Homo sapiens: one gene and its partner. The protein of the gene in region 1 interacts with the protein of each later gene in a pairwise test. Each region holds a gene or a part of one and is shown in the gene's direction. Other genes may lie near its edges. The genes, in order: ARL15 and CCDC90B.

What was found.
Region 2: the proteins of ARL15 (region 1) and CCDC90B interact in a two-hybrid assay, tested with the Homo sapiens proteins (one large-scale study listed by BioGRID and IntAct).

What each region holds. Positions count from the first base shown.
Region 1 is NC_000005.10:54,111,253-54,115,073, reverse strand, and holds part of ARL15 (ADP-ribosylation factor-like protein 15), read left to right. Parts: intron 1-1,663; coding exon 1,664-1,872; coding exon of another isoform or gene 1,873-1,959; exon of another isoform or gene 1,960-3,639; intron 3,640-3,821.
Region 2 is NC_000011.10:83,265,814-83,269,634, reverse strand, and holds part of CCDC90B (coiled-coil domain-containing protein 90B, mitochondrial isoform 1 precursor), read left to right. Parts: intron 1-3,655; coding exon 3,656-3,770; intron 3,771-3,821.

The sequences.
Region 1 (3,821 bases):
CAAGCTACCAACAGGATGTCACTGAGCACAGAGTTGGGAAGAGAAGCAAACAGGTGACCCTTGCCAGCCAGGGCACACCAACTGCAGTCCCCACTGTTTCCCTAACACATAACAATATGTCAAACATAGGAGCTAGATGTTCAGTGGATGACTGAAATACAGTTATTAACTGGTTAGGACTTGATCATATGCAATAAATTGGTGAAATTCCTTGAAATCTAATTGTCGTTATATAACCAGTAGCACCCCTTTCCTACACATGCACACATATTGCCCCTCCTATTCTTGAATGAAAGTGATGAAAACAGTCACCATGATGTAATGGGAAGTGCCTATGCCTTCCCTGGGCAGGTTGTCTGCTAACTCATGCAAATCCCAATTTTGTGATTTATTAGATACATGACAAGGGATCACTTACTTTACCTCTGTCTGCCTCAGTTTCCTCAGAGAGTTGGACTAAATCATCTCTAGAGTTTGTTCTAGTCTCAAATTTGTAAAGCTTAATTAGTATATAATTTTACTCCCTCATTCCCTCAATTTTCATTATTCCAGTACTGAACTTTGAGTTAGATGTTGTGCTATATAATGGAAATACAAAGAGGAATACTACATGACATGCCTTGGCTGATGAGACTCTCCATGTGGTGTTGCTTTTTTTTTTTTTTTTCTTGAGATGGAGCCTTGCTGTGTTGCCCAGGCTGGAGTGCAGTGGCGCGATCTTGGCTCACTGCAACCTCCACCTCCCGGGTTCAAGCGATCCTCCTGCCTCAGCCTTAGCTTCCCAAGTAGCTGGGATTACAGGCACCCGCCGCCACGCCCGGCTAATTTTTGTATTTTTAGTAGAGATGGGGTTTCACCATGTTGGCCAGGCTGGTCTTGAACTCCTGACCTCAGGTGATTCACCTGCCTTGGCCTCCAAAAGTACTGAGATTACAGGTGTGAACCACCGCGCCCAGCCTCTCCATATGTTTGTTTGTTTGTTTATTTGTTTGTTTTAATAAACATCTTATCTCATTGAGATCATAAGTGTACACCTGTTGTCTGTTATTTTTCCTCATGGGTTATGAAGCCAAACAGAATCATGTAATTGTATCAAAGGCCATGATTTTAGTTTTTCACAAACTTTAGCACTTTGACACATAAAGCTATTGTGCTAATAACTCCCTAGGTGAAATTAAACAAGGCTGTCCTGATCAGCAAGCAGTTCTGTTAAAAAAGTATCACCAAGCTAATGTTAATGGTTTGGAAAGAAGCGTTGGTGGATGTCTAGGCCATGCAGCTCTCTGAGGCAGGTTCAGTCTCAATTTTTAGAGAGTGTGTAGTTCATTTGAGATGATTAAAGTCTGAAAATATCCTTTTGAGTTTAAGTCTAGGAAGTATTTATCCTGGTTCTCTCACACACATTTTTATATAAAAGTCATTAAGAATGGCTTGGATTTTGTGTCTTCCTTCAAGGCCAAATCTACCTATTGGCTCTACTGCCTTCTTTGTTCCCATCCACTGTGATTTCTGCCTTTTCTAAATTCCTGTTTTAATCCATACCACAGAGTTTAGCACTTAATTTTTAAAAGGTACATTGGTTTCCAGTAGGAATTACTGTTGGGAACATTTTTCAGTTGCTGAAAGCTCTTTTTAAAACGAAAATTTGTTTTGTTTTTGACAGGGGCTGATAACATCCGGAAATACTGGAGCCGCTACTACCAAGGATCTCAAGGGGTAATATTTGTATTAGACAGTGCCTCTTCAGAGGATGATTTAGAAGCTGCTAGAAATGAGCTGCACTCAGCTCTTCAGCATCCACAGTTATGCACTTTACCCTTTTTAATATTGGCCAATCATCAAGACAAGCCAGCAGCTCGCTCAGTACAAGAGGTATGTCTCATTAGCATGACAACTCTTTGTCTTCCTTGCTTGTACTTTTGCTGCCACGTTGGAACCTGGAAAAATGCATGTAATTAGGAATGTGCTGGTTATGCTGCTTTCAACATGAAACCTTAGTTTTCATAGGAAGCAGAAAGCCTATATCAATCTGTTAGCACTTGTTTACATACCTAACCCTACTTGGAGAGCACAGAGTTTTCTAGCTATTTAGCAATGGTTAAAAGATGTTTCTGGTTATATTTTTCATCTATTTTGAGGGGCTAAAGGCCTGGTTATTTAATGTTGTTTTAACCTGTGGACTTAGTTCATTCTCTTCTTCAGCTTTTCTAGGAACATATCGTGAGTATTTCCATGCATTACTCGCCTTCAGGTGTCATGTTCTTGTTCCTCTGAAGTGTTCAATGTTGACTAGGATTAATGGATCCTATTCTGTAATCTGCTAGGCTGAAAATTGATGTCTTGCAAATTCCATGCCATCAAATACATTTTAACATGGAACCAATGTTTATCTTCCTCATTTAATTTTATTTCTTAGCTTGTATCTCTCCTATAAAAGCATGAGACTAATTCTAGGCAAATAGAGTCTCAGCCAATAGAGCTTGTGATTCATGGTACTGCAGTAATGAGATATGTGAATAGTTTTTAAAACTTAAATTATAGTGAATTATAACGTAAGTACAGTGAAATCAAAACTCCTGATGTATTCCTTTATACTTGTAACTTTCAGGATATGATTTCCCCTCTCCTTCAGAAAATTGCATGCTTCCTCAAGTGATTTTGGAATGAGATGATTAATATGAACAATCTTGCCTTTCAGCCTGAAAAATAAATGAGGAGCCAAGGACATAACATGTTCTAACTCCAGACCTCCCTCACACTTAGTGTGTGACCCACGGCAGATAGCCTATTCTTGTGCCTGGCTTCTCACCTCTAAAATGAGAATAATCCAATTTATTATGATAAGTTAATAGGATTAATTTGGATAATTTACTTTGAAGTTTAAACACCTAAGTAGAAGAACCATATAAATAGAGTTTTTATTCAAATTTTAGAAACACAGTTTAAAAAAAAGAAAGGCAAGGACCCATTATTCAACAGACAGAGCTCATGTCTCACTTTAGTTGCCTCATTCAGCATTAAGTACGTAGCACCTTTTAAAGAATAGAGTTTGAAAAATACCTTATAGATAATATTAAGTAATTAAGTAAAAAACAGCAATAAAAATCTATTCAGAAAGTCATTAATGTGAAGATCTTCAGCATTATAATGATGGTGTCTCCTAATGTGCTTTTAAGACCTTAGTTTGTAAATCTTTTAACTTCTCAGCATCAGTTTTTCTGCCTATAGAGTAGATATAATAGTATGTAATGAAGGGTAGTTTATGATTATAAGGTCGTTTGCTGAGAATGCATTGTTATTCAGCTATTCATTCTAAAAAATCTTGTAATATGTATGTGTACACTACTACATGTAGACAGTATAATGTGTGTATGTAATATATACATAATACATATACACATTGATAAAACATAGATATAAGTGCCATTTTAACTTCAGATAACTTTATTCAAGTTATTTGCAATATCTGAAAAAAGATTTTTTCTTTCTGCTTTTAAAGTTATGAACCTGTGTATCTGTTTTCCTTAGACATCATATAATTGAAAGTAATGTATCTTTAAACCTAACATATGACTTATGGTTACCCTCCATAGGAATGAAAGATGATCACATTGAATAAAGGAAGCTTTTAGCAATTAATTGCTTCTGAGTATTCCTTGTGTGTGTTGACTGGCTGTCTTTCCTAGGTAAAGAGCAAATATCTTTTTCCTTCTTTTTGTGATTCATCTTTCAGTAAGACTGATAGTTATAAATGTAGCGTTGTCATAGATATGGTCTGAAAATGATTCTAAACTTGTGTATACTGGAGCATATGTGGCTTT
Region 2 (3,821 bases), on another chromosome or scaffold:
TTGGTCTATTTAGAGATTCAACTTCTTCCTGGTTTAGTCTTGGGAGGGTATATGTGTCCAGGAATTTATCCATTTATTCTAGATTTTCTAGTTTATTTGTGTAGAGGTGTTTATAGTATTCTCTGATGGTAGTCTATATCTGTGGGATCGGTGGTGATATCCCCTTTATCATTTTTTGTTGCATCTATTTGATTCTTCTCTCTTTTCTTCTTTATTAGTCTGGCTAGTGGTCTATCAATTTTGTTGATCTTTTCAAAAAACCAGCTCCTAGGTTCATTGATTGTTTTTTTAAGGGTTTGTTGTGTCTCTTATCTCTTTTTTAAGGGTTTGTTGTGTCTCTTATCTCTTACCTCTGAAAGAGATAAGAAGCAGCAGAAGTTATTTATTGCCTTCTGCTAGCTTTTGAATGTGTTTGCTCTTGCTTCTCTAGTTCTTTTAATTGTGATGTTAGGGTGTCGATTTTAGATCTTTCCTGCTTTCTCTTGTGGGCATTTAGTGCTATAAATTTCCCTCTACACACTGTTTTAAATGTGTCTCAGAGATTCTGGTACGTTGTGTCTTTGTTCTCATTGGTTTCAAAGAACATCTTTATTTCTGCCTTCATTTCGTTATGTACCCAGTAGTCATTCAGTAGCAGGTTGTTCAGTTTCCATGTAGTTGTGCAGTTTTGAGTGAGTTTCTTAATCTTGAGTTCTAATTTGATTGCACTGTGGTCTGAGAGACAGTTTGTTGTGATTTCTGTTCTTTTACATTTGCTGAGGAGTGCAAGTGCTTTACTTCCAATTATGTGGTCAGTTTTAGAATAAGTGTGATGTGGTGCTGAGAAGAATGTATACTCTGTTGATTTGGGTTGGAGAGTTCTGTAGATGTCTATTAAGTCTGCTTGTTGCAGAGCTGAGTTCAAGTCCTGGATATCCTTGTTAACCTTCTGTCTCGTTGATCTATCTAATATTGACAGTGGAGTGTTAAAGTCTCCCATTATTATTATGTGGGAGTCTAAGTCTTTTTGTCGGTTTCTAAGGACTTGCTTTATGAATTTGGCTGCTCCTGTATTGGGTGCATATATATTTAGGATAATTAGCTCTTCTTGTTGAATTGATCCCTTTACCATTATGTAATGGCCTTCTTTGTCTCTTTTGATCTTTGTTGGTTTAAAGTCTGTTTTATCAGAGACTAGGATTGCAACCCCTGCTTTTTTTTTTTTTGCTTTCCATTTGCTTGGTACATCTTCCTGCATCCCTTTATTTTGAGCCTATGTGCATCTTTGCACGTGAGATGGGTCTCCTCAGTACAGCACACTGATGGGTCTTGATTCTATCCAATTTGCCAGTCTGTGTCTTTTAATTGGGGCATTTAGTCCATTCATATTTAAGGTTAATATTGTTATGTGTGAATTTGATCCTGTCATTATGATGTTCGCTGGTTATTTTGCCCATTAATTGATGCAGTTTCTTCATAGCATCGATGGTCTTTACAATTTGGCATGTTTTTGCAGTGGTTGGTACTGGTTGTTCCTTTCCATGTTTAGTGCTTCCTTCAGGAGCTCTTTTAGGGCAGGCCTGGTGGTGACAAAATCTCTCAGCATTTGCTTGTCTGTAAAGGATTTTATTTCTCCTTCACTTATGAGGCTTAGTTTGGCTAGATATGAAATTCTGGGTTGAAAATTCTATAAGAATGTTGAATATTGGCCCCCACTCTCTTCTGGCTTGTAGGGTTTCTGCCAAGAGGTCCGCTGTTAGTCTGATGGGCTTCCCTTTGTGGGTAACTTGACCTTTCTTTCTGGCTGCCCTTAACACTTTTTCCTTCATTTCAACCTTGGTGAATCTGATAATTATGTGTCTTGGGGTTGCTCTTCTTAAGGAGTATCTTTGTGATGTTCTTTGTATTTCCTGAATTTGAATGTTGGCCTGCTTTGCTAGGTTGGGGAAGTTCTCCTGGATAATATCCTGAAGTGTTTTCCAACTTGGTTCCATTCTCCCACTTTCAGGTACACCAATCAAACGTAGATTTGATCTTTTCACATAGTCCCATATTTCTTGGAGGCTTTGTTCGTTTCTTTTTACTCTTTTTTCTCTAACCTTGTCTTCTCGCTTTATTTCATTAATTTGATCTTCAGTCACTGGTACCTGTCTTCCACTTGATTGTATCAGCTGTTGAAGCTTGGGCATGCATCACGAAGTTCTCGTGCCATGGTTTTCAGCTCCATCAGGTCATTTAAGGTCTTCTCTACACTGTTTATTCTAGTTAGCCATTCGTCTAATCTTTTTTCAAGGTTTTTAGCTTCCTTGCAATGGGTTCAAACATCCTCCTTTACCTTGGAGGAGTTTGTTATTACCGACCTTGTGAAGCCTGCTTCTGTCAACTCATCAGTCATTCTCAGTCCAGTTTTCTTCTTGCCATTGCTGGCAAGGAGCTGCAATCCTCTGGAGGAGAAGAGGCACTATGATTTTTAGAATTTTCAGCTTTTCTGCTCTGGTTTTTCCCCATCTTTGTTGTTTTATCTACCTCTGGTCTTTGATGTTGGTGACCTACAGATGGGGTTTTGGTGTAGATGACCTTTTTGTTGATGTTGATGCTATTCCTTTCTGTTTGTTAGTTTTCCTTCTAACAGTCAGGACCCTCAGCTGCAGGTCTGTTGGAGTTTGCTGGAGGTCCACTCCAGACCCTGTTTACCTGGGTATCACCAGCAGAGGCTGCAGAACAGCAAATATTGCTGCCTGATCCTTCCTCTGGAAGCTTTGTCCCAGAGGTGCAGCCGCCTATATGAGGTGTGTGTCAGCCCCTACTGGAAGATGTCTCCCAGTTAGGCTACACAGGGGTCAGGGACCCAATTGAAGAAGCAGTCTCTCCGTTCTCAGAGCTCAAACGCTGTCGTGAGAGAACCACTGCTGTCTTCACAGCTGTCAGACAGGGACATTTAAGTCTGCAGAAGTTGTCTGCTGCCTTTTGTTCAGCTATGCCCTGCCCACAGAGGTGGAGTCTAGAGACAGTAGGCATTGTTGTGCTGTGGTGGGCTCAGCCCAGTTCAAGCTCCCCTGCCACTTTGTTTACCTACTCAAGCCTCAGCAATGGCGGATGCCCCTTCCCCAGCCAGTCTGCTGCCTCACAGTTCGATTTCAGACTGCTGTGCTAGCAGTGAGCAAGGCTCCGTGGGCGTGGGACCCGCTGAGCCAGGCACAGGAGAGAATCTCCTTGTCTGCCAGTTGCTAAGACCTTGGGAAAAGTGCAGTATTTGGGCAGGAGTGTCCCATTTTTCCAGGTAGTCTGTCATGGCTTCCCTTGGCTAGGAAAGGGAAATCCGCTGACCCCTTGCGCTTCCAGGGTGAGGCAATGCCCCACCCTGCTTCAGCTCACCCTCCGTGCGCTGCACCCACTGTCCAACCAGTCCCAATGAGATGAACCAGGTACCTCAGTTGGAAATGCAGAAATCACCCGTCTTCTGCGTTGATCACGCTGGGAGCTGCAGAGTGGAGCTGTTCCCTTTTGGCCATCTTGGAACACTTCAAATTTTTTTACACCACTATGCTTTTAATGTTTCCCCAACTAAGACTTTTATATCACAATTAGCCCATAAGTGAGGGTTTATAATGTAAATGCTTTTGTCCATTTAATACATAGGGACAAAATTAAGTTCTCTTATTCTGGTTTACCACAGGATACTCAAACCAAAAGTATTATTTCAGAGACCAGTAATAAAATTGACGCTGAAATTGCTTCCTTAAAAACACTGATGGAATCTAACAAACTTGAGACAATTCGTTATCTTGCAGGTAAGACTGTCAGAGAAAGAAATTGCTGTCATCTAATTTTCCTGTTAGTTC